Linked DNA regions of Homo sapiens. The protein of the gene in region 1 interacts with the protein of each later gene in a pairwise test. Each region holds a gene or a part of one and is shown on either strand. Other genes may lie near its edges.

Region 1 (7,694 bases):
TGCAGTGGCCTTTAGTTTATAGGACTGTGTTCAGGCTTCCCCACTTCGCAGACAGCCATGAAGTCAGCTGTCATTCAACTCAACGCTTCTCAAATTTTAAAGTATATTAAGTAACTGTGGAGCTATAAAAATGAAGATTCTCAACTCCCATCCTAGGCCTAATGAAGCAGAATGTGAGTGGGATTCAGGGATGTTAAACAAGCTCCAAACATGATTTTGATGTTCATCAAAGTTGGAGGATCACTAGAGTAATGGCCAGGACTAGAAGTCAAAAGACCTGCACTTAGGTTACTGGTCTTTTTCTTTGTGTGGGATTATAGCTATGTTGCCATCTCCATAGGCAAGAGTATTCTCATTTTTAAAATGGAGAATGCTTTTGATTTACCAAGGTATTTTAGGAATTGAGAAAAGTGCTCTGTAAATGTCCAAGTGCTATAAAGTATTAGATGAAATTATTCACACTCTGGCCCTCTTATGTGTCTGTCCCCAAGCTGTTTCCAACTTAATGCTATTGATTGCCCAATTTGCACGAACCTTTTACTTCAGGTTGGCTAGTCTTTTCCCTGATGCTTCCAAACCACATGCACTCTTATGATGGCTTACATTTGTTTTACCCGCTTTCTCCCTTTTGACTGCTAAGTCTGCCCGTCAAATCCTTATTTTAAATAAAATCTTTCTTGACCACTCCAGGCAAAAGTAACCTGTCCTTTAGAATTTACAGCACTTATAGTCTGTTACAAAGTACCACTTTCATTCGACACCATCTGGTGCATCAATTCTACTCTCCTGTAGTCTTATATGACTAAATATGTGGATCTTATCTATCCCAAACTAGGCTACAAACTCTCTGAGAAAAGAGTTTGGGGTTATCTTCTTGTTCTCCACAGCACGTAGTACAATGGGCAGCACACAGTGAATTCTTATTAAATATCTGAGGTTTCCTTATAACAATGGTGACTGAAGTTTTGCCCCAATAATTGTAAAGCTAAATAGTATTTCTCACCGGCCTGAACTCTGTGAGATAACTTCCCTGTAGTCATCACACAGAAACAGATTTTTCTCCTTTGTGGATAGTCTGATGTTGAGTAAGAGCTGAGTTCTGCCTGAATGATTTCCCACACTCTTTACATACATAGGTACCACGTCTATTATGGATTCTCTGGTGTTTACTAAGATCTGACCTCTGTCTGAAGGCTTTTCCACACTCATCACATTGGTAGGGCTTCTCCCCAGTGTGGATTCTCTGATGCTGAATGAGGCTGGTGATTCCTCGGAAGGCATTCCCACACTCATCACACTTGTAGGGCCTCTCTCCAGTGTGGATTCTCTGATGTTCCGTGAGGACTGATCTTTGAGTAAACGCCTTCCCACACTTATCACATTTATAGGGTCTTTCTCCAGTGTGAATTCGCTGATGTTCTGTAAGACTTGTCCTTTGAATAAAGGCTTTTTCACATACGTCACATTTGTAGGGTTTTTCCCCAGTGTGAATTCTCTGATGCTGAATAAGGCCACTCTGACTGAAGGATTTCCCACATTCCTTACACTGATAGCATTTTTCTTTGTGGTGGATTTCCTGATGGGAAACAAGGGATGAGTTATAAACAAAGGCTTTTCCACACTCGTTGCACTCATACGGCTTGGCGCCGGTATGAACTCCTTGATGCTGAGTAAGTATGGAACGCCGACTAAAACTTTTATTACACTGAGTGCACTGATAAGGTTTGTCTCTTGTGTGGATCTTGATATGGTGAAAGAGGCCTGCTTTCTGACTAAAGGCTTTGCCACAGTCATTACAGTGATAGTGTTTTTCTCCTGTGTGAAGTCTCTGATGTTGGTTAAGAGCTGACCACCGGCCAAAGGCTTTGCCACATTCATTACACTTATACGGTTTCTCTCCAGTGTGTATTATTTTGTGTCGAATAAGCACAGTTCTCCCACGGAAAGCTTTTCCACATTCTTCGCATTTGTAGGGTCTATCTCCAGTATGGATCCTCTGATGTTCTATGAGGTGTGAGTGCTGACTAAAAGCTTTTCCACAGTCATCACATCCGTAAGATTCTTCTCCTGGACAGATTCTCTGATGTTCAGTATGGTCAGAGTTCTCAGTCAGGCTTACTCCATTTTCATCACAGGTAGGTTGTTTATCTTCTCTGGAGCAAGCAGAGGGCTCTTCTGTTATTTCTTCAGGTTCACGAGTTTCTCCACACCTAGCAGACTTGGACATATCATTTTCAAATTTACTGGATGTCTTCCCATGTGGTTCCATTTCTTCAGAAACTTCTTGCTTTAAATTCCCATACTCATTTCCAGTCTCAACATCTAAAACTAAGAAGGGATCATAAATGTTACCTCTTTCTACCTTTAAAATGTATCCATACATTTTAATATTAAGCAGCTGTTTAGAAATAAAAAATGCAAGAGTCTACCATCTTAGTGATAAAGAGAGCAAAATATATTTGTTTCAATATGGAAAACATATGCATCAAAAAAATATCTGGAAGGACACACGAAAAATTAGTAACAGTTACAACCTATTTCAGAGTAGGAGGAAGAGACTAGGTGGCTGGGAAAATCGAGTAGAATAGAAACTTTTCATTAAATAACTTAAAAAATTTTTGTTTTTGAGCCATGTACATTTTTACCTACTTAAAAAATTAAATGAAAATGAAAAGGATGCAGAGAAAGTAGAAATAAGGTAGCGGATCTTTCACACATTCACCAACTTTTAATATTTTGCAACATTTGTTTTATTATTTTTTCTTTTTCTTTTTTTTTTTTTTGAGACAGTCTTGCTCTGTTGCTCAGGCTGGAGTGCAGTGGGGTGATGTCAGCTCACTGCAACCTCCGCCTCCTAGGTTCAAGCGATTCTCCTGCCTCAGCCTCCTGAGTAGCTGGGATTACAGGCACGCGCCACCATGCCCAGCTAATTTTTGTATTTTTAGTAGACACGGGGTTTCACCATGTTGGTCAGGCTGGTCTCGAACTCCTGACCTCGTGATCCACCCACCTTGGCCTCCCAAAGTGTTGGGATTATAGGCGTGAGCCACCGCACCCAGCCTGTTACTCCTTTTCTTTGTAAGTATACAAATTTTTTTTTTCTTGAACCATCTGAAAGTTAGTTGCAGACATAATGGAGCAAAGGCTTATTTAGTGAAGCAGAAAGGATATAGTGCAAGTGGAAGATAGAGGTATTGTCTGATAGGATAAAGGCTAAAAATAGCAAGGAGGTCAGTATAAAGAGAGATAAATATCAGAAGGACTAAATTAAGTGGTAAAGCCAGAATTTAGAAGAATATGAATATACAAAAAAGTAAGGGTTGAAGAGTGACAAACTAGGCTGTCTGAGAGTCTATATATGAGCCATCAGATTCTGAGACGGCCTTTTTGACTTTAATGATCAGAAACAGTAGCAAGTACAAAAAAGCCCCAATGTCCTATGTTACCCATCTTCCCCTTCCTCCCAAGATGGGTCTTTCTTCTTTACCTTGCTCCTGTTGGGATTCAAGTTCTGGAGATTCATACTTTGGCTGGGCTTTCATGGACTGGAGGGACATACTGGGTTCTCCTTCTTTTCGTAGACGTACCGTCTCCTGCAAGAACATTTCCTGTTCCCCAGTGTGGACTGAGACCTGAGGAAAATGAGATGTAGCTGACAGACTCACTCTGATAACAGAAAACAAAAAGTATACTATTTGTGGCAGTGGCTGAACCCTGAAATGACCTTTTTCCCAGATATAAGCCTGCCATAACCCTACCCATTCTTCAAGGCCAATATAAATGTCGCCTCCTCTGGGGAATCTTCCCTTCTCCACCCAGATGTAATTTCTCCTGTTGTTACCGCTAAAGTATGTTGGTTGTGCCACTGTTACCTCTTTATCTTATGCTTAAAGAAGTGGAGAAAGGAAAGGGAGAAAGACAAAACAAAGGAGAGAAGAAAAAGGTGAAAAGAGGCAGAAAGGAGGAAATAAGATAGAACTTAGGGTAAAATAAAACATTAAGAGAGAAAGAGGAAAAGGAAAGGGGATATGTAAAGGTAAATAATGTAGAGAAATGATAAAAAAAAAAAAAAAAAGGCACCCTTGGGATGCCATGGTGGGAGGATTGCTTGAGGCCAGGAGTTTGAGACCAGCCTAGGCAATATAGCAAGACCCCATCTCTCCAAAAAAATTAAAAATGATCTGGGCATGGTGGTGCACATCTGTAGTCCTAACTACTCAGGGGACTAAGGCAGGAGGACTGCTTGAGCCCAGTTCAAGGTTATAGTGAACTATGATTACACTACTGAACTCCAGCCTGGGTGACAGAGACACTGTAGCTCCAAAAAAAAAAAAAAAAAAGGTTGAAGGGAACAAATGAGGAGAAAGAAAGGGAAAAGAAGGGAAGGAGAGAAATCTCTTCCATATTCATTCCCTAAGCTGTTCCCAATAGTCTCTGCTCTTCTGAGGTGCCCGTCCCACTTCTCTCTGGGAAGATTATCTTATTTTCTATTTATCCAAGATCACAATCATCTCAAAAATCATCTACTCTTCATTTTATCTATCTCCACCCTCATACTCCTCTCCATTTCTTCTATCTTAGGATGATGTCTTCTCTTTTTCAAGGCTTACGTCTCTACTTTTGCCTTCAATCCCATCACTTTTGGCTTCTCTCTGACCCTTGCTCCCTCAGTTAACTCATTTATTCAATTTCAGCCACTGGGTGGCTCCCATTCTTCCATGGGCTTATTTCCTCTTGCATTTAAAAATAACAGGTTTCTTCAGCAAGGTATTGTAAAAAGCAGGGATTTGGAATCACATGGATTACTTACTCTCTCTCTTAGTCTAGTAGCTCTGTGACCTTGGGCTAGTTACTTACTCTCTCTGAGATTATAAATAACATTTGTATAAACCACCTTGCACAGGGATTGGCATACAACAGGTTCTCAAATTACTCCCCCATTCTCTTCAAAGGTTAAATTTTATAACTAAGAAATCACCATATACTGCCTCTATTTCCCTGATACATTTTCATTTTGTAGCCTCAGTCTTCAGAATAAAAGCGAGAGTCAGCAAAATGCTATCTCAGATGTATAGAAAACGGTGTTTTGATATCTCATATTTTGAAAAAAGAAAGCCGGGGGAAAAGGCCAGTACTGCGAGCTGTGCCTTCTATTCTGGGATCTCTGGTCAGGCCTCAGAAATCAAGCTGTAAACTCCATTATATGCCCCTGCAGTGCTTTCAGAGAAAGAACTGGTTGGCAATACAAATTCAGCACATTTAAAACCAAATTACTTTTGTCTGCATCTAAGAATCCCATTCTTTGTACCTCCCTAGCTACTCTGTTTCTACTGCTCATTACTCCCTTCATGATCTCATCCTATCTCGTGGCTTTAAATACTATGCGTATTCTGAAAAGCCCCAATTCTGTAGTTCTAGCACAGACCCTTCCACTGAATTCCAGTTTATTATATCTAGTTGTTTGCTCAACTTTTCTGCTTGGATTCTAATAGGAATCTCAAAATTAACATGTCCAAACCCTGTTTTTTTTGTTTTTTTGAGGCAGAGTCTCACTCTGTCGTCCAGGCTGGAGTGCAGTGGCAAGATCTTGGTTCACTGCAACTTCCGACTCCTGGGTTCAAGCGATTCTCCTGCCTCAGCCTCCTGAGTAGCTGGGATTATAGGTGCCTGCCACCACACCCAGCTAATTTTTGTATTTTTAGTAGAGACAGGCTTTCATCATGTTGGCCAGGCTGGTCTTGAACTCCTGACCTCAGGTGATCTGCCCACATTGGCCTCCCAAAGTGCTAGGATTGCAGGCTTGAGCCACCGTGCCTGGCCCAAACCCTAAGTTTTGATTCCTGTCTTTCCACCCCAAACCCACTTCTCTCCCAGTCTTTACCATCTCTATGAATGACAAATCCACTCTATCTGATGTTCAGACCAAATACTTCGGCATAATCCTTAACTTACTTTCTCTCATATTCCACATTCTATATAAAAACAAACCCTGTCAAGCTCTAGCTCCAAAATATATCCAGAATCCAATCACATTTTACCACTCCCACTGCTACTATTCTAGTCCAAGTCACCAATATCTCTTGCCTGGATTATTGCTTATTATTATTGCTCCTAAAATGGTTTCGTTGCCTCTACCTTTTACTCCTATGGCTACCCCAGCCCCATTGTGGAACTTTCTCACAGTAGCCAGAGTGACTATTTTAAAATTCAAGTCAGATTATATCTCGCTTCTGTTCAAAATTCTCCAATGACTTTCCATCTCAGAATACAATTCGAAATTCTTATAATGGCCTACAAGTTCTGACATAATATAATCTTATAAGCATTTTATTTCATCTCCTCCTTGACAACCACATCTCCACCATGATAAGTACATTCTCACTTTAAGACCCTCTGCCTGAATGCTGTTATCCCTGATAGCTTATGGCTTGCTCTTTTCATTCAGATTTCTCCTGTAAATGTCACCTATCTGAAAAACCTTCTCTGACAAGTCTACAGAAAACAGCACAATCCCCACTTATTTCACTATTCCTTTTCTCTGCTTTTATTGTTGTTGTTGTTTGAACAGAATTTATTACCACCTACATCTTGTAGGTGTTTGTTGATTTTTTTTTTTTTTTTTGGAGATAGGGTCTCACTGTGTCGCCCAGGCTGGAGTGCAGTGGTATGATCGTGGTTCACTGCAGCCTCGATCTCCTGGGCTCAAGCAATCCTCCCACTTTAGCCTCTCAAGTAGCTAGGACTACACACACCTGCCTGGCTAATTTTTGTATTTTTTATAGAGATGGGGGTCTCACTATGTTGCCCAGGCTGGTTTGTTGATTTTTAATTTACTATCTGTCTCAGTGGACCAGAACCTACATGAGAGCAGCAACCCCTGTGTTTTGTTCGCTGTTGCATTCACAGTGCCTAAAACAGTACCTAGTCCAAACAGACATTCGGTAAATATGTGCTTAATTGTTTCCTGCAGTCTTTAACTTTGTTAGGAGTGTCTCCATTATACTAGTCTTTCAAGCTTAAAATCCCTAGTGTTTAGCTTAGAATACATTGCTCTGTAAAGAGTTCTCCATTGGTTCTTCCTTCTTTATTTAATAGAGCTAATCTGTCATCACTTCCAAACAGTTCTTACCTAAGACATGCCTCATCCTTGGTAATCACACTTTCACGATCCTATTTCTTTTTTCTGTTTGTTTGTTTGTTTTGTTTTTTAAACGGAGTCTCACTCTGTTGCCCAGGCTGGGGTACAGTGGCACAATCTCGGCTCACTGCAACCTCTGCCTCCTAGGTTCAAGTGATTCTCCTGCTTCAGCCTACCAAGTACCTGGGATTACAGGCATGTCCTGCCACACCCGGCTGACTTTTGTATTTTTAGTAGAGACGGGGTTTCACCATGTTGCCCAGGCTGGCGTTGAACTCCTGACCTCAGGTGATCCACCTCCCTTGGCCTCCCAAGCGCTAGGATTACAGGCATGAGTCACCGTGCCTGGCCTCATGATCCTATTTCAAACTTAGATATTTTTGCCACATGTTCCTACCCTCTCTATTGCATTTTGTATCACAGTGCTAGATTATACTTCTGTTTCATTATTTCCCTAAGTTTCAAACTCTTTATACCGGGGTTTCCCAGCATTGGCTCTACTGACATGTTCCTAGCATTGGCTCTACTGACTTTGTTGTCTGGGGCTGTCCTGTGT
Region 2 (7,942 bases), 110 kb from region 1:
GCCTTTTGGAACATCTCAGAATTCATACTGGAGAGAAACCTTATCTATGTATCCATTGTGGAAAAAATTTTAGGCGCAGCTCTCACCTTAATCGACATCAGAGAATTCACAGTCAGGAGGAGCCCTGTGAGTGCAAGGAGTGTGGAAAAACCTTTAGTCAGGCCTTACTCCTCACCCACCATCAGAGAATCCATAGTCACTCCAAAAGCCATCAATGTAACGAGTGTGGAAAAGCTTTCAGTTTGACCTCAGACCTTATTCGACACCACAGAATTCATACTGGAGAAAAACCTTTCAAGTGTAACATATGCCAGAAAGCCTTCCGACTAAACTCACACCTTGCTCAGCATGTAAGAATCCACAATGAAGAAAAACCCTATCAGTGTAGTGAATGTGGAGAAGCCTTCAGGCAAAGGTCAGGTCTTTTTCAACATCAGAGATATCACCACAAAGACAAACTGGCTTGATGAGGTGTTCTCTCCTTGTAGAACATCAGAGAAGGCACATTGACTAGCAAACAGCACTTTAGGAAAAGTCACCGTAGCCCACTGTGGCATCAGAAAATTCTTGGGGGCTGAGTTGGAGGCTCCCTGCCTCTATTCTCTCTCCTTTGCTTTCCTTGAAGTCAGCTTTGGACCACAATAATTTCACTGTAGATGATATGCTAGGATCAAAGTTAAACAGCATTCTTCACTGCAGGACATCTCAGAGCATGTAACATAACTGCATGATTATATACTCTAAGCAATAGAGAGCTTCATGACTGAGTAAGAGTTTTGAAGTCAGCAGTGAATCAAGTGCCCACAGATTTGCAGGCTTAAGCAGAACAAGGGAAGATTGATATTTTTGGATATGCTATAGCAGCTTTCTCCTATGAAATAAAACTGATGATGTTTGGAAGTATACTACTCTCAAAGGTGTCTTTAAAGTACAGGTTAATGGTGAACATTTTCCCCCAGTGGCTTCACCTCATTCCTCCCACTGGCCTTACCCCTTCCTTCCCCAGTGGAAGCATTTTCAAAAGCAAAGATAATTTTCGCTGGTGAACTTCAGAACTTGCCTTCAGGGTTAGCTTCATGTAATTTTACCATTTCCCATCCCCATTCCCCACCACATTATGTCAAGATTCAAGTTATAAATTAACGTTTTACTTAGACTTTGAAAGAGATTTCATGAGTAATTTGAATGAACCTTGCTGAATTAATCTGAATAGCAACTGTCTGACTTGATAACTCCAGTGCCAGTATAGTGGCTGCTGCATAGACACTATTCAGTAAATGTCTGATGAAAGAAATTGGACTTTTTCCCTTTAATACTGATGATGCAATTTTGAAATGTTGCTTGTTCTGGAATACTTCGGAAGTTAAACAATAAAGTCAGCTTGGAGAGGAGATCATGATCTTTATACTGTGAATAGCAGAATGTCACAGATGAAGAATATTAAAATTAGGGGCGTCCACTCCAAAACATATCACCAGAGTGACAACTTCAGCCCTCAGCCTCTGCAATCCATATATATCCTGGTCTTGGGAGTCCATAGAATACTGTTTCCTTCTAATAAAGGTTTCAAACAAATCCCTGCAGATTTATTTAAAGTGTTTGTGGAAGATAATTTTCCATATAAGCTGTGCAGTATTCTATGGTATATGTCCCCATTGTTCATCATTTACGTCATTTACAGTTTGATCACCATAAACAATTTTTCAGTGAACATCCTTGTATATACAACTTTGCCTACTTACAGAATTTTTTTCTTTGTTCAGTTCCCATAATGAGAATCAATGAGGCAGAAGGTAGGCATATTTTCTAAGGCTTTTGATGCATTTTCCAGAATGCCCTCCAGAAAAGTTACACTAATTTGTACACCCTGTTAGCAGCCTATGATAATGCCCAATTTTCTATACCCACGTAAACTGGGAATTATTCTTTTGAATATTTGACAATCTGATGTGTACAAAATGGTTTGCTTTTTTTAATAAACCATTTTTTAGAGCAGTTTTAAGTTCTCAGCAAAATTGAGAGGAAGATACAAAGATTTCTCATATACCCACTGCTCCCATTCATGTATAGCCTCCCCTATTATCAACATCCCCTCCCAGGGTGACATTTGTTACAATTGATGAACCTACATTGACATATTATCACCCAAAGACCATAGTTTACATTAGGGTTCACTCTTGGTATTGTTCATTTTATGGGTCTGGACAAATACATAATATCGTGTCCACCATTATAGTTTCACTGCCCTAAAAATCCTCTGTGCCTTACCTATTATTCATCCCTCCCTTTTTCCAGCCCCTAGCAACCACTGACCTTTCTACAGTCTTTATAGTTTTGCCTTTTCCAGGATGTCATGTATACAGGTTGAGTACAGCTAATCTGAAAACCCAAAATCCAAAATGCATTAAAATGTGAAACTTCAGCACCAACATGATGCTACAAGTGAAAAATTTCATACCTGACCTCGTGACAGGTCATAGACAAAATCCAGTCAATACTTTGTTTCGGCTGGGTGCAGTGGCTCAAGCCTGTAATCCCAGCACTTTGGGAGGCCAAGGTGGGTGGATCACCTGAGGTCAGGCGTTTGAGACCAGCCTGGCCAACATGGCGAAACCCCGTCTTTGCTAAAAATATAAAAATTAGCCGGGTGTGGTAGCATGCACCTGTAGTTCCAGCTACTTGGGAGGCTGAGGCACGAGAATCGCTTGAACCCAGGAGGCGGAGGTTGTGGTGAGCCAACATTGTGCCACTGCACTCCAGTCTGGGCAACAGAGCAAGACTCAATCTCAAAAAAAAAGACTATGTTTCATGCACGAAAGTATTTAAACTGTATAAAATTAGCTCTATGTGAGTAAGGTATATATGAAACAAATGAATTTCATGTTTAGACTTGGGCCTCATCCCTAAGATATTTCATAATGTATGTATATATTCCAAAATCCGAAATTGGAAACACTTCTGGCCCCAAGCATTTCAGATAAGGGATACTCAACTTGTAGTTGAAATCATACAGTATGTAGCTTTTCAGACAGGATTCTTTCACTTTGTAATATGCTTTTAAATTTTCTCAATATCTTTTCATGCCTTGATAGCTCATTTCTTTTTTTTTTCTTTTTTTTTTTTGACATAAGGTCTCACTCTGTTGGCCAGGCTGGAGTGCTGTGGTACGATCTTGGCTCACTACAACCTTTGCTTCCTGGGTTTAAGCAATTCTCCAGCCTCAGCCTTCTGAGTAGCTGGGACCACAGGCGCACACCACCACGGCCGGCTAATTTTTTGTATTTTTAGTAGAGATGGGGTTTCACTGTGTTGCCCAGGCTAGTCTCCAGCTCCTGAGCTCAAAGTGATCCACCTGCCTCAGCCTCCCAAAGTGCTGGGATCACAGGCTTGAGCCACCGTGTCTGGCCAGCTTATTTCTTTTTAGCACTGAATAATATTCCATTGTCTGCATATACCACAGCAAAAGAAATATCTGTTAAAGGACTGTTATCCAAAATACAGAAAGAACTCTTAAAACTCAGAAATAAGGAAACAACCCGATTCAAACATGAGCCAAAGACCTTGACAGACACCTCATTAAAGAAGATATACAGATGGAAAATAAGCATATGAAAAGATGCTCCACACCATATCCCATCAGGGAAATTGCAAATTAAAACAACTGTGAGATGCCACTACACATCTATTAGAATGACCAAAATCCAGAACACTGACACATCAAATTCTGGTATGGATGTGGAACAACAGGAGCTCTCATTCATTGCTGGTGGGAATGCAAAATGATACAGCCACTTTGGATGACAGTTAGGTAGTTTCGTACAAAATTAAACATACTCTTACCATGTGATACAGCAATCGCCCTCCTTAGTGTTTACCCAAAGGAGCTGAAAACCAGTGTCTACACAGAAGTTTGCACACAGATGTTTATAGCGGCTTTATTCATAATTGCCAAAACTCAGTAGGTAAATGAATAAATAATGGGTCTGTTTTTTAAAGAGTTTTTTATATTTTTACTATTGAACATCTTTTCACATGTTAATTTGTCACTTATCTTGTGTGTAGTAATGTTCATATCCTTTACTAATTTTTCTACTAAAGTCTCCTTTTACTCTTAAACAGAAGTGCCCTTAAAAATCAAATAGGGAACTTGCATATCAGCATTTTAAATGCACGTGTCCTTTGGCTGAACAGTTCTAATATGTGGCATTTATCCTAGAAATATATTCTTAAAAGAATGTAAAGGTATTGAATGGTGTTCCCTCTAGCATTGCTTTTAAAGAAAAAATATAACCTAAGTATGCATCAATAGGATAGTTAAGTAAATTATGGAACACTCATACAGTATTACTTAGCTGTTAAAGAATAAGCTGATCTGTGAAGATCTCCAAGTTGTCTTAACCGAAAAGAGCTAAGGTGCAAAATTACATTATGATACCATAAGTGTTTTAAAATGTATAAATACTTATTCACTAAACAAAATGTTCATTAAGTGCTACTGTGTGGCAGGTAGTGTCCTAGATAAATATGAACAAAATACAATGGTTAACTCTAAAGAGGGGACACTTTTCGTTTTATGGTCCTTTTGCAACTTGACTTTTTTATTGTACATATATTATGTATACTTAAAGAAAATAATTTGTACAGCTTACTATAATGGTCTTTTTATTGATCTGTCTCTCCTACCAGCCAGTGATGACCCCGAAGACAGACATTTACCACTGTGTTGGTTTTCAATCGAAATGATGTACATAAATTTGGGGCGTGCTTGCACCGTCCGAATGGGCCTGGGGTCCGGCGGCGGAGAGTGACCTGGGCGGGGCAGGAGGTGGCAGCGGGGGTCCTCCCGGCTCACCAGAGAGACGAGCGGCCGTGCTCCTAGAGAGGCAGGGAACCCGCCAGACTCCGCCACTCCGCTGCGGGCGCGGCGCAGGGAGAAGCTTTTGTACCCGCCCAGCTGCTGGAGGCGCCGGCAGCGCCCGCCAGACCCGCCAGCCCAGCGGCCCGGGCTCTGGGGAAACCGGCGCTCCCGACAGGGGAGCACCGGGCCTCTGAGCTCCCTCGGGAGCCTTTCACGAGGTCAGCTACGTCTTTGTTGTGCGCGTTCCTGAACTTTTGGTCCATTAACCAACAATTAGACACGCCGGTATTCAGTGCCTGGCGCGGTGCTAGATGCTGGGTGTAATCTCAGAAAAATACATTCAGGGGCGCGCCTGAGGGTGCTGGCTGCTGGCATCTCAGGTGCTTTACGTGCATTCGTGAAGAAGCCCATCAGTATTTCTTGAATACCAGGTACGTGCCGGGCATGTAGAGTCTATGCAGAGATAAACTCCTGTCCTCAAGAACCCGGGTGGGGATGGGGTTGGTGATCTGTAATACGAGATGGAGATGAGGGTTGGGTGCAGTTTTCTATGGGAATACCCCATCTCAACCTGTGTGGCTTACTTTTCCTGTCTATATGTTAGGGTTAGGGGTTGCCAGGGAAGGTTTTACAATAGAACATTTACGCTGGGCCTTGGGAATTTACCCTTAGAAGGGCGGTCCTGACTGTATAGAGTGGGTGGAAAAAAATTGAGTACTTAGCATGGCAGTGACATAAGAAATTTGGGAAGACCATGGCTTTCTTGAAAGCAGGAACCAAGTCTTTTATTCCAGAGTTAACTTTATGCCTGGAAAATAATGAGATGCTCCACAAATGTTGATTGAGTGACAAACAAATCAGCAAAACCCAGTAAAGATTAGATCCTGGGGAGTTTGAATTTACTTCAACGAGTTTAATGAAAACTTTGTGTGTGTTTATGTGTGTGTGAGGTATGTTGAATATGGTCACAACTGTGCTTTAGGGAATATTAATCCAGTGACCATAGAAGCGGGGAGTTGGGCAGGAATACCGTAACAGAACATTATTGTAACAGTGAATGAAAATAATAGTAAAATTATAAGAAGGAAAGAATGGCTGCAAGAGGCGTTTTTAAGAATTGACTCACTGATTGTGTATAGAGGCTGTTTAAAAGACTGAATGCGTGGAAGATGATGGTGATGCCAGTAGAAATGGAGAAATACCGAGTGAACGCAGCTTTGAGGGACTCTGATTTCAGTTTGAGATCTGTTGAAATTATAGTGCAGTAGAGGCCCACAGCTGCTGGCATTTCAAGATGTGGGTTTGGAGTGCAAAAAGCAAGCTGGTGCCAAAGATTTGAGTCTTCTTGGAACAGAGATATATTGAAAGTGTGACTAAGGAGATCACAAAGGAAAAAATGAAAAGAGGGAATAAAAGAACTTGATGCATGTCTACTGTTTTTCAGTTATGTATTGTTGCATCAAAAATAAAACTCTAAACTTAGTGGCTGAAAACAAGCTCAGCTTATTGTTCCTCAGGATTATGCGGGTTGACTAGGCGGTTCTACTGGTCTCACCTGGAGTTACTAATAGAGCTGCATTCAGGTGGTGAATTATTTGAGCACTAGGCCTGGCTGGGCTTTAACTTGGGCATTTTGGTTCTCATCCACATGACCTCTGTATAGCTAGCTTGGGCTTCCTTACAGCATGGCAGTCTTATGGCAGTGAGCCAAGAGCTACAGCAGCACTCTCTCTTACAATGTCATTTCTGCTGTATTCCACTGGTCAAAGCAAGTCATAGGCCAGAACAGATTCAAGGGAAGGAAAAAGAGACTCCACCCCTTGAATGACAACAGTGGCAAAATCTCATCACAAAAGGTATTTGAGAATGGGAGACTTTGGAAACATTCTGTTACACCTACATTTAAAGTGGAATATTCAATGAGAGTTACACAGATATAGAAGACCTTTGAGACTGTATTATTTGTCCATGAAGGCAGCCATCTGCCTCCTCAATGGGTAAATTATCCCCTCTCCCCAGCTGAAGTGCAAGCTACTCGAGCTTTCTTATTGCTAACACTTCTTCCCTCATGTCCTACATCCCTTACCTTTGGACTCAGGCCCTTTAGTACTAGTTCAAAATATACTTCTGATTCATTTCACTGATAATAGAAGCAAGCAGGCTCAGCTTTTGAGCATTACCTACAGTGGGGACAAAAATGTAAGTAGGTTACATACAGTTTTGAAGCTCTTATAATTTGCATGTTGCTGATAAATTCTTATGCCTCAGATCTCTATTTCTGAATATAGACCCCAAGCTAAGTGAAGCTTTAGCCTCTAAGCTCAACATGTATGAAGCTTTGCCAGGCCCTGCTCCTGAAAATGAAGATGGCCTTGTGAAAGTGAAGGAGGAAGATCCCACCTGGGAGCAGGTGTGCAACTCACAGGAGGGCAGCTCCCACACTCAGGAGATTTGCCGCCTGCGCTTTCGGCACTTCTGCTACCAGGAGGCTCACGGACCCCAGGAAGCTCTGGCCCAACTCCGAGAACTTTGTCATCAATGGCTGAGACCGGAGATGCACACCAAGGAACAGATAATGGAACTGCTGGTGCTGGAGCAGTTCCTGACCATCCTGCCCAAGGAGCTCCAGCCCTGTGTGAAGACATATCCTCTGGAGAGTGGAGAGGAGGCAGTGACAGTGCTGGAGAATCTAGAGACAGGAAGTGGAGACACAGGACAACAGGTGGGAAGAGAATGTGTGTGGTGATGTGGGAGAAGAAAAGGGGGACATGTATCGGTTTATTTTTAACGTTTTATTTTGAAATAACTCCTAATTTATAGAAGTATTAGAAGAATAGAGAACTCCCGTAAAACTCTTCATCCAAATTTGCCAGTTGTTAACATTTGTTTGATGAAGTCCCATTGTTGTGTACACACTCGTACAAGGAAGTGCATTCCCCCCCCCCAAGATGCATATGTATATGTATACACACACATACATACACATATGCAGTATTTTTTTTTCCTGAATCTATTTGAGAGTCAGTTGCAAACACTATATCCCTTTACCTCACTGTTGACCAGGCTGGAGTGCAGTGGTACGAT
Region 3 (7,000 bases), on another chromosome or scaffold:
TAACTGAGAAATACCCAAGTCTGGTAGTTCTACCAATCTGGTATATTCCAGAATACTTAAGATCCAGTGCTGGAGTTATAGCATCATTGAGTTACAAGCCACAGTTCTTCCTGTCTTTTTGGCCATGTTTCTCCCTATAGGAGAGCCTTGAAACTTAAGATTTGTTGTGGTACAGTTTGTTTTCTCCCAATATCTTATACATAGGAATGAAGTTGCCTGCTTATAAATTCCTTTAGGGAATCTTTATCATTTTCTTTGCAATCCAACAATCTACTTCTACTTCACTTGGATGGCCAAGGAAAATAATTCTGGAATGTCTAGCGTCTTGAAGGTATAACACGTAACTGAGTTAATCTGTGCTGACCTGATGTAGTAGTGCTAGTAGTACACTTCCATTACACCACCATACTGGATGCCAGCCATAGCTGGCATCTGAGAAACTGTTGAAGGATCCTAACATCAGCAATGAGGAGGACTCAGCAAACATGCAATGCGACATCCAGCTCAATCTTTGTACAGTACTGCATCCCCTTCTAAGAGAAGACGGCAGTAAGCACATAGGATTTGGAACCATAGATTGTTTGTAGCCTCAGTTTTTACCTATGTAAAATGGAGATACCTATTAGGGTTGCTGTGAAGAGCAAGTAAAAGACTTGGGAGCACTTACTTAGTACAAAAGTAAGCATATGGTAAGAATTTAAAGGAGATTTTAAGTGCTTTGGCAGCCATCTAAAGACTATGCAGGCTCCCAAATATTTGTTTCCATGTCCTAGGAGGTAGTCAAAAGAACTGAGGCAGAAACATTCCATTTATGTTTCTAGGGTTTAAACCATGCAGTCTTTTAAGCCTTCTTAAGTATGCAAGATGCTATCACTCCTTAAATATCAGACTTAGATCTCTTCAGACAGGTGTAGTGGAGAACACTTCGGTCACCATCTAACACATTACATTCATCATAGATAAAGGTACCTGTGACTTTCACCGGTAAAGTCACTTACCGGTGCCTGTGTGTGACAGTAAATACAGCCCTAGCATTGATGTGATATTCAGTAGTGACATCTGCCCTGCACATATTAGATGCCAGACACTGTGCTGAGCTTTTTGTGTGCATCTCACTTAAATCTTACCTTGTCACAGTGAGACAGTCCCCATCGTCTCTACTTTACAGAGGGAGTTAGTAACTTGCCCAAGGTACCACACACAAGACACGGAAGTCTATGCTGTTAACTACATTGCCTGCTGCTTCTAAACAGAACCACCTTGTCACCCATCTGACTTTTTCCTTGAGCGCAGTGAAGAAAAAAGCCATTTTTGATATGCCATGAGGTAACCTGCGGAGCACAAACTCCCCACCCGCAGCTGGTCTCACTCCTGTCTCAGTGTTTTTGCATTGAGATTTTTACAGTGAGATTTACAGGAGAACACTGGGTCATGGTCCTACTTTGTTCTTTTTCTCATTAGCCAGGCTCAAAAACGTGAAACGGACTCAGGAGACATGATAGAGAGATGGAACACCACTGTTATCAGTTTGTTAGTAGCTTATTTATCTATGGATCCCTAAGTTTCATATCTAGAGCCTCACTGGTAAAATGCATTCAGCTTTCCTGTGTGAAGGTAGATGTGAAAGGGATATGCAAAGATGGCTGATAATCCTTCACATGCAACTGTTTCGGCTAAAAATCCTCCAGGCTGGATTAGAGAGAAATAAGTTCGAAAAACGCCATTGTTCCCTCTTCAGATTCATTCCCTCCATATTTGGAAATAAGTACCTTTGAAGATTTTTGTACTTTTATATATTTCTGAACTCTCATAGTTTAGGCCCATGATATGGCTGAAGCATGGATGTACAATTTTTAGTTTTCCCAAGAAAAATCATACTTGTTAGGATATTTACTCGAGTAGTTTTTTAGTATTACAATTCTAGAAGAGAAGTCATTATAAGCCCCTTCTGGCCTTAGAGACTATATAATACCAAAAATACCTAAAAACCTTTTCTTTAAGAGAGTGAAATCGCTTGATGTGCCCTCCCACTCCGGTTAGATGCTTAACAGACGACAGCAGACAATGCACCTCAACCAGGGCTAAGTGTGCACACTTGGCCAGCAGCCGCCAACAGAACGGGCAGCAGCAGCAGTTAGCACTGACGCAACTATCGCTGCTATTGCCACTACCATCTCCCCACTAACAGGGCTTGCAGAATATGTAATACCCAGGGGATTATATATATGTGGTTTTTAGGCACCGCCTCATCACCCACAATAAGGGAAGCTTCTTTCTACTCTTTAGCTAGTTGCTGCTCCTACTTGTTAGGAGTTTGATGTATCAGACCCTTTTGAGAAATGTCTATGTCACAACTACGTTCAGGATAAAACAATTATGAAACTGAAGGGCTCAGATTTGGGGATCAAGATTAGCAGGTTGTATTCATAGTACTTCAACTTAAATTAGCAAAAGTATATCTGCTTTTTGCAAGTTTTTGCCACCATTGAAAGCAAACAGTATAGCTTTCATTTGGATTCAAAATAATAAATTGTTTTACTTGGGTAAGATTTCACTAGTAAGAATTCTAGGAAATTATTCCAGTTAGATTACGTAATAGAGATAAGTGACCCCTAGAATCTTTAGGTTTGGGGTAAAGATTGTTAAAAGGTAGACTTTAAGTTGGTCTACCATTTCTACAGTGTTCTTAACTGAAGAGTTAGTCTTTTAATACCCTGTAGTTTGCTATTTAAAGCTTGGCTTCTCATTTTTGAGAAGGGCTACTTGACTTCCACAGATACAAGGAACAGAAGCAAATGCCAAAGTGAAAGCCTCAATTTTTTTTTTTTTTTTTTTTTTTTTTTTGCCTTGTATTCATCAAGAACTAAAGAGGCAGCGATACCTAGGCTTTAAAACACCTACTAGAATGTTTTAAGGGAGCTAGTTGAACAACTGGGACTATTTTTTTGCCAAATAGATTAGCTTGCAAAGGGCACTTAAAAATTTGGACAGAGGAACTTGGCTGGATTTCTTTACCAGAGGCCACAAATCTGTTTATTCATCTATCATCAATCTTTGTGGCAATTCCTAAAATTTCTGGAGGGTCCACTTTCACTTTGTGTGACAGGCTCATCTAACTCCAAATATTCTCCTTTAGTGTATGATAAGCTTCATATTTTACCTCTTAATTATCTTCTACATTGAACTCTAGAGACAGAGCAAACTTATCCTAACACATTTCACATAGAATTCAAGTTATTTTTTGGGTGATAAAGCCGAGGCCTGTTATCATTCATGCACTATTATTGCAAGCTGTATTGACTAGTAGTTTAGTCATATAACTATTTTTTTCTTTTATTTTTATAAATTTTTTTTTTGTAGAGACAGGGTCTCACCATGTTGCTCAGGCTGGTCTCGAACTCCTGGCCTCAAGTGATCCTCCTGCCTTGGCCTTCCAAAGTGCTGGGATTATAGGCGTGAGCCACCATGCCTGGCCCACCAATATATCTATTCTTATTTCAATAGGAATATCTAGTTACTTTGTTTCTACAAATGAGTTTGTACCTCGTAGGTACAATGAGTTGTACCTTGGCTTCTTACTGGGGAGGACGTGGTAAAAAAAAATGAGACGTTTTAGACTCTTTGAGGGTTGGAAATTTTACCCAGAACATGAAAGAACATACTAGGGACAGGAATTCAAAAGATGATGATAGAGAATAATACTTTATTTGCCAAAACAAACTTTGGGCCTTATAATTAATTAATACTGTATAATCCTTATAATGGGGAAAGCAATAGTATCAAACTTCAAGCTTCTAAAGGGAATTTGGTATTACTCCAGTTAAAAAAAAAAAAATCCATGTTTTTTGTACCACAGCAGGGTCAGAGCAGCAGCCAAACTCTGAAATGGCTTTCAGAGTTCATGATGAATGCTAACCTACTTACCAAACAGGCACTTCAGCTACTCACTGTCAGCAGGCCACATCCTGTTCAGTGTGATGACTAAATGTAGAGTGAGGAAAAGGTGGAGAGCAGACAGTTCTATATTCATGACTACAGCCTTTTCCTTCTACATGCTTGACCTCCAAACCTCCCATGAAAAAAAAGTCCAAGGCTATCTTTTCTTTTTCATTCAGTTGACCAAAATCACAAGGGGGCATCCCTTAAGACAACAGAACCAACTTCCCCTTCATCTAGTAGGATTAATGTCCTTGCTTAAGCCACAAACAAGATGTTAACTGCCTTATATTTCATATGCAAGTGAAATATGAGTCATCCACTGATTCACGTAGCAACGCAAAACATCTTCTCTTCATCCTCTTGGTACTGTGTTGGTCGGTCATTTAATTCCAGAGGAATTGCTGTACCTTCCACAGCCAACTCTCCACCTCACTTGTGACACACAGCATGCACCCGGTGCTTCAAGTCTTTTGTCTTTCCTTGCTTCCAGACATCCTGAGACTTTAGAGAAAGAAAGTAATGGCCAACCTGATGGAAAATTCACTAAACTCCCTGTACAATTTTTTCTTTGTCTCAAACTCCTCATCTGCTCTTCATACTGTAAGTTCCAGAAATTGTCCATAGTAAGAATCTGCCCCATCCCAGCCAGGATAAAAATTTAGGTGATATTGCAATTATATTCTTCATGAAGTCACAGTAAAACGGTGGTTTTTAAGCTTTAGTTTACATCAGTATCGCCTGAAGGGCTTATGAAAGCAGGTTTCAGCCCTCGCCCCCAGAGTTTCTGATTCAGTAGGTCTGGGATGGGGCTGGGAACTTGCATTTCTAATACATTCCCAGGTGATGCAGATGCTTCTGTTCTCAGGACCACACTGAGAAACCTGCCTTAGACTGTTCAAGAATGCCATTGCTTGCTATCCTCCCTGGCCATCTTCACAGTAAGACAGTCTAGACTTTCATAAGAAGAAAGCCCTTATCCATGCCTTAGAAGGCACTTGTCCTTGACCTATATAAATGACAGAACATGGAAAACAGAGACTTAACTATAAAGAAGCAGAATTCATAGAAATCTTAGCACGTGTTTCTCGATCAGGAAACAAGTTAATGGAAAAAAAAGAAACTCACTCCTCTAACCAAGAGGAATTCTAGGTACAGACTAAGCTAGCTTCTTTTACACAGTAAGAAATATTTCGGGAGCAAATGTTAAACAGTACTTCATTTTTTAACTGTGCTAGGGTGTAAGAGAAACCAGCCCAATTACAGGCTTAGTTATACAACATCAAGAACTACAGCTCACACATTTAGTTAGAACACTTGGTACTACTCAGGATAGGAGTTCATCCTAGAGGAACAGGCACAAACCATGGTTAAGCTGCTTGGTTTAATTTTTTAGCACTTGAAAAAAAATGTACAGTAGTTTGAACACTCAGTCTTTGCAAACCTCCATTGAGGTCAAAGATATCATTCATACGTACAAAATTAGTTTATAAATTTTTTTGGCAATTTCATCTTAGTAACCCGTTTTGTCCTATTGCCATTGTCCCAACCATTGAAAAAGTTTACAATAATTTACATAGAAATATTTTCAAAGTGCTTAAGAATAGTGATTGTTCTCTGGGATATTTACAGATGGCCTATACAATGTATGTACAGGTGGTATACACTATAGCACAAGTTTCACTGCTGGAATATGGCTTTCTAGGGAAAGTGCATATTTGGCCAGAGGTGGCAATACTGTCTAGAAATTCAAGGGTTACAGATACTCGGTAACCACATCCAAAGCTGAAGTAGAATGTGGACAAGAATATTTACAAAAGTAATATAAAAACGGTCAAGTACACAAGCTTGATCCACGCAAAGGTATCTTGATGTTCTTCCAGCCGAGAGGAAGAAAAAGAGACTTCAGCTGCTGGCTCGGTTACCATTCCGACGGGGGTATTATTTGTTTAGACCTCAAAGGTCAACATTTGTCACAGAAGTCAAGCTAGATCATCATCTGTGCTTACAACTGATATCTGTGGAAAAGAAGAAGTATAGAATGAGCTTGGTGATCACTCACTGATGGCAACTCTAGTCTTTAAAATGGACCTTGCTTTTGAGTTGGTCATTCAAACACTCAGAGTGCTTAGAAGAAAAGTCAGTCAGATACAAAAGAATACTGAGTTGTATCATTCATGCATTTAACTTGAATTCAACTATACCTGCTTGGTAGTGAGATAAGATAGTGTGACTAATTCTGTCTTTTCTACTTAATGATCATAAGTCTTGGGGAAAAATGTGAAAAGCCATGTGTGTGTCAAGAATTGACCACTGTTCCATGTTTCACCGGAGTTTGAGAGGGGAGTGATCAATACTTGTTTTGTTCAGCCTGTTTCCTACGTGAAGGCCAAATACTCCACTTGGGTTTCATCTGAAGAACAAGTGAGTGACTATTGCTGGAAGAAAAGCTAGCTATACTAAGGGCGGTGGGATACCTTTTTAAAGCAAAGCATATAATAATTTTGGCTAAGTGAATCTTACTCAATACACTGACTTTAAGCCAACTCCCCTATATATGATATGCTAATTTACTTTCAAATATCCAGTAGGCAATGGATTTAATAGTTCAGTAATGAGCTACTTGGTTCATGCTAGTATTTACATGTCATTTCTATAACCAAAAATATCTTAATATAGTGGTGACTTTAAGTTGACCCACTTGTCAGTTGGTGAGGGTTAGATGCTGATCAACTGAGTGACTTATGTTCTAACAGGCTATACTGTCTGTCTAATAGCCAGGTAGCAGATGAAGTGTTTGGTAACTCCATCATCCTAATGGCTCTCTCTCTCTCACCCAGGTCTCCTTTCTGAAAAGTCTCACTTCAAGCCATGGTGTATAAAGACACAAAGCTGACTTACTGCTGGGTACGTGTGTCCAACAGAAGCACTGTGTCTACCAATGTCTATGGAGAGGTCCTCTTCAGTGGTTTTCAAGTACACAGGATTGTCAAAGTTCATGCTTTTCATGTTCTTGTGTTGCCAATTCCGCCACATCAAGTAGCCACCTACTGCTGCCATCACT

What was found. Proteins that work in one complex are often made in the same cells at the same time.
Region 2: the proteins of ZSCAN12 (region 1) and PGBD1 interact in binary tests that used the Homo sapiens proteins (3 or more experiments, as listed by UniProt).
Region 3: the proteins of ZSCAN12 (region 1) and VLDLR interact in binary tests that used the Homo sapiens proteins (3 or more experiments, as listed by UniProt).

Annotation. Positions count from the first base shown.
Region 1 is NC_000006.12:28,389,415-28,397,108, forward strand, and holds part of ZSCAN12 (zinc finger and SCAN domain-containing protein 12), read right to left. Parts: intron 3,667-7,694; coding exon of another isoform or gene 3,633-3,666; coding exon 3,488-3,632; intron 2,329-3,487; coding exon 1,040-2,328; 3' UTR 1-1,039. UniProt on the Homo sapiens protein: May be involved in transcriptional regulation.
Region 2 is NC_000006.12:28,276,630-28,284,571, forward strand, and holds the start of PGBD1 (piggyBac transposable element-derived protein 1), read left to right. Parts: upstream 1-4,942; 5' UTR 4,943-5,289; intron 5,290-7,126; exon of another isoform or gene 7,127-7,146; 5' UTR 7,147-7,184; coding exon 7,185-7,580; intron 7,581-7,942. Other genes in the region: ZSCAN26 (zinc finger and SCAN domain-containing protein 26), read left to right, coding at 1-467.
Region 3 is NC_000009.12:2,652,787-2,659,786, reverse strand, and holds part of VLDLR (very low-density lipoprotein receptor isoform a precursor), read right to left. Parts: coding exon 6,838-7,000; exon of another isoform or gene 6,777-6,837; intron 5,955-6,776; coding exon 5,919-5,954; 3' UTR 1-5,918. UniProt on the Homo sapiens protein: Multifunctional cell surface receptor that binds VLDL and transports it into cells by endocytosis and therefore plays an important role in energy metabolism.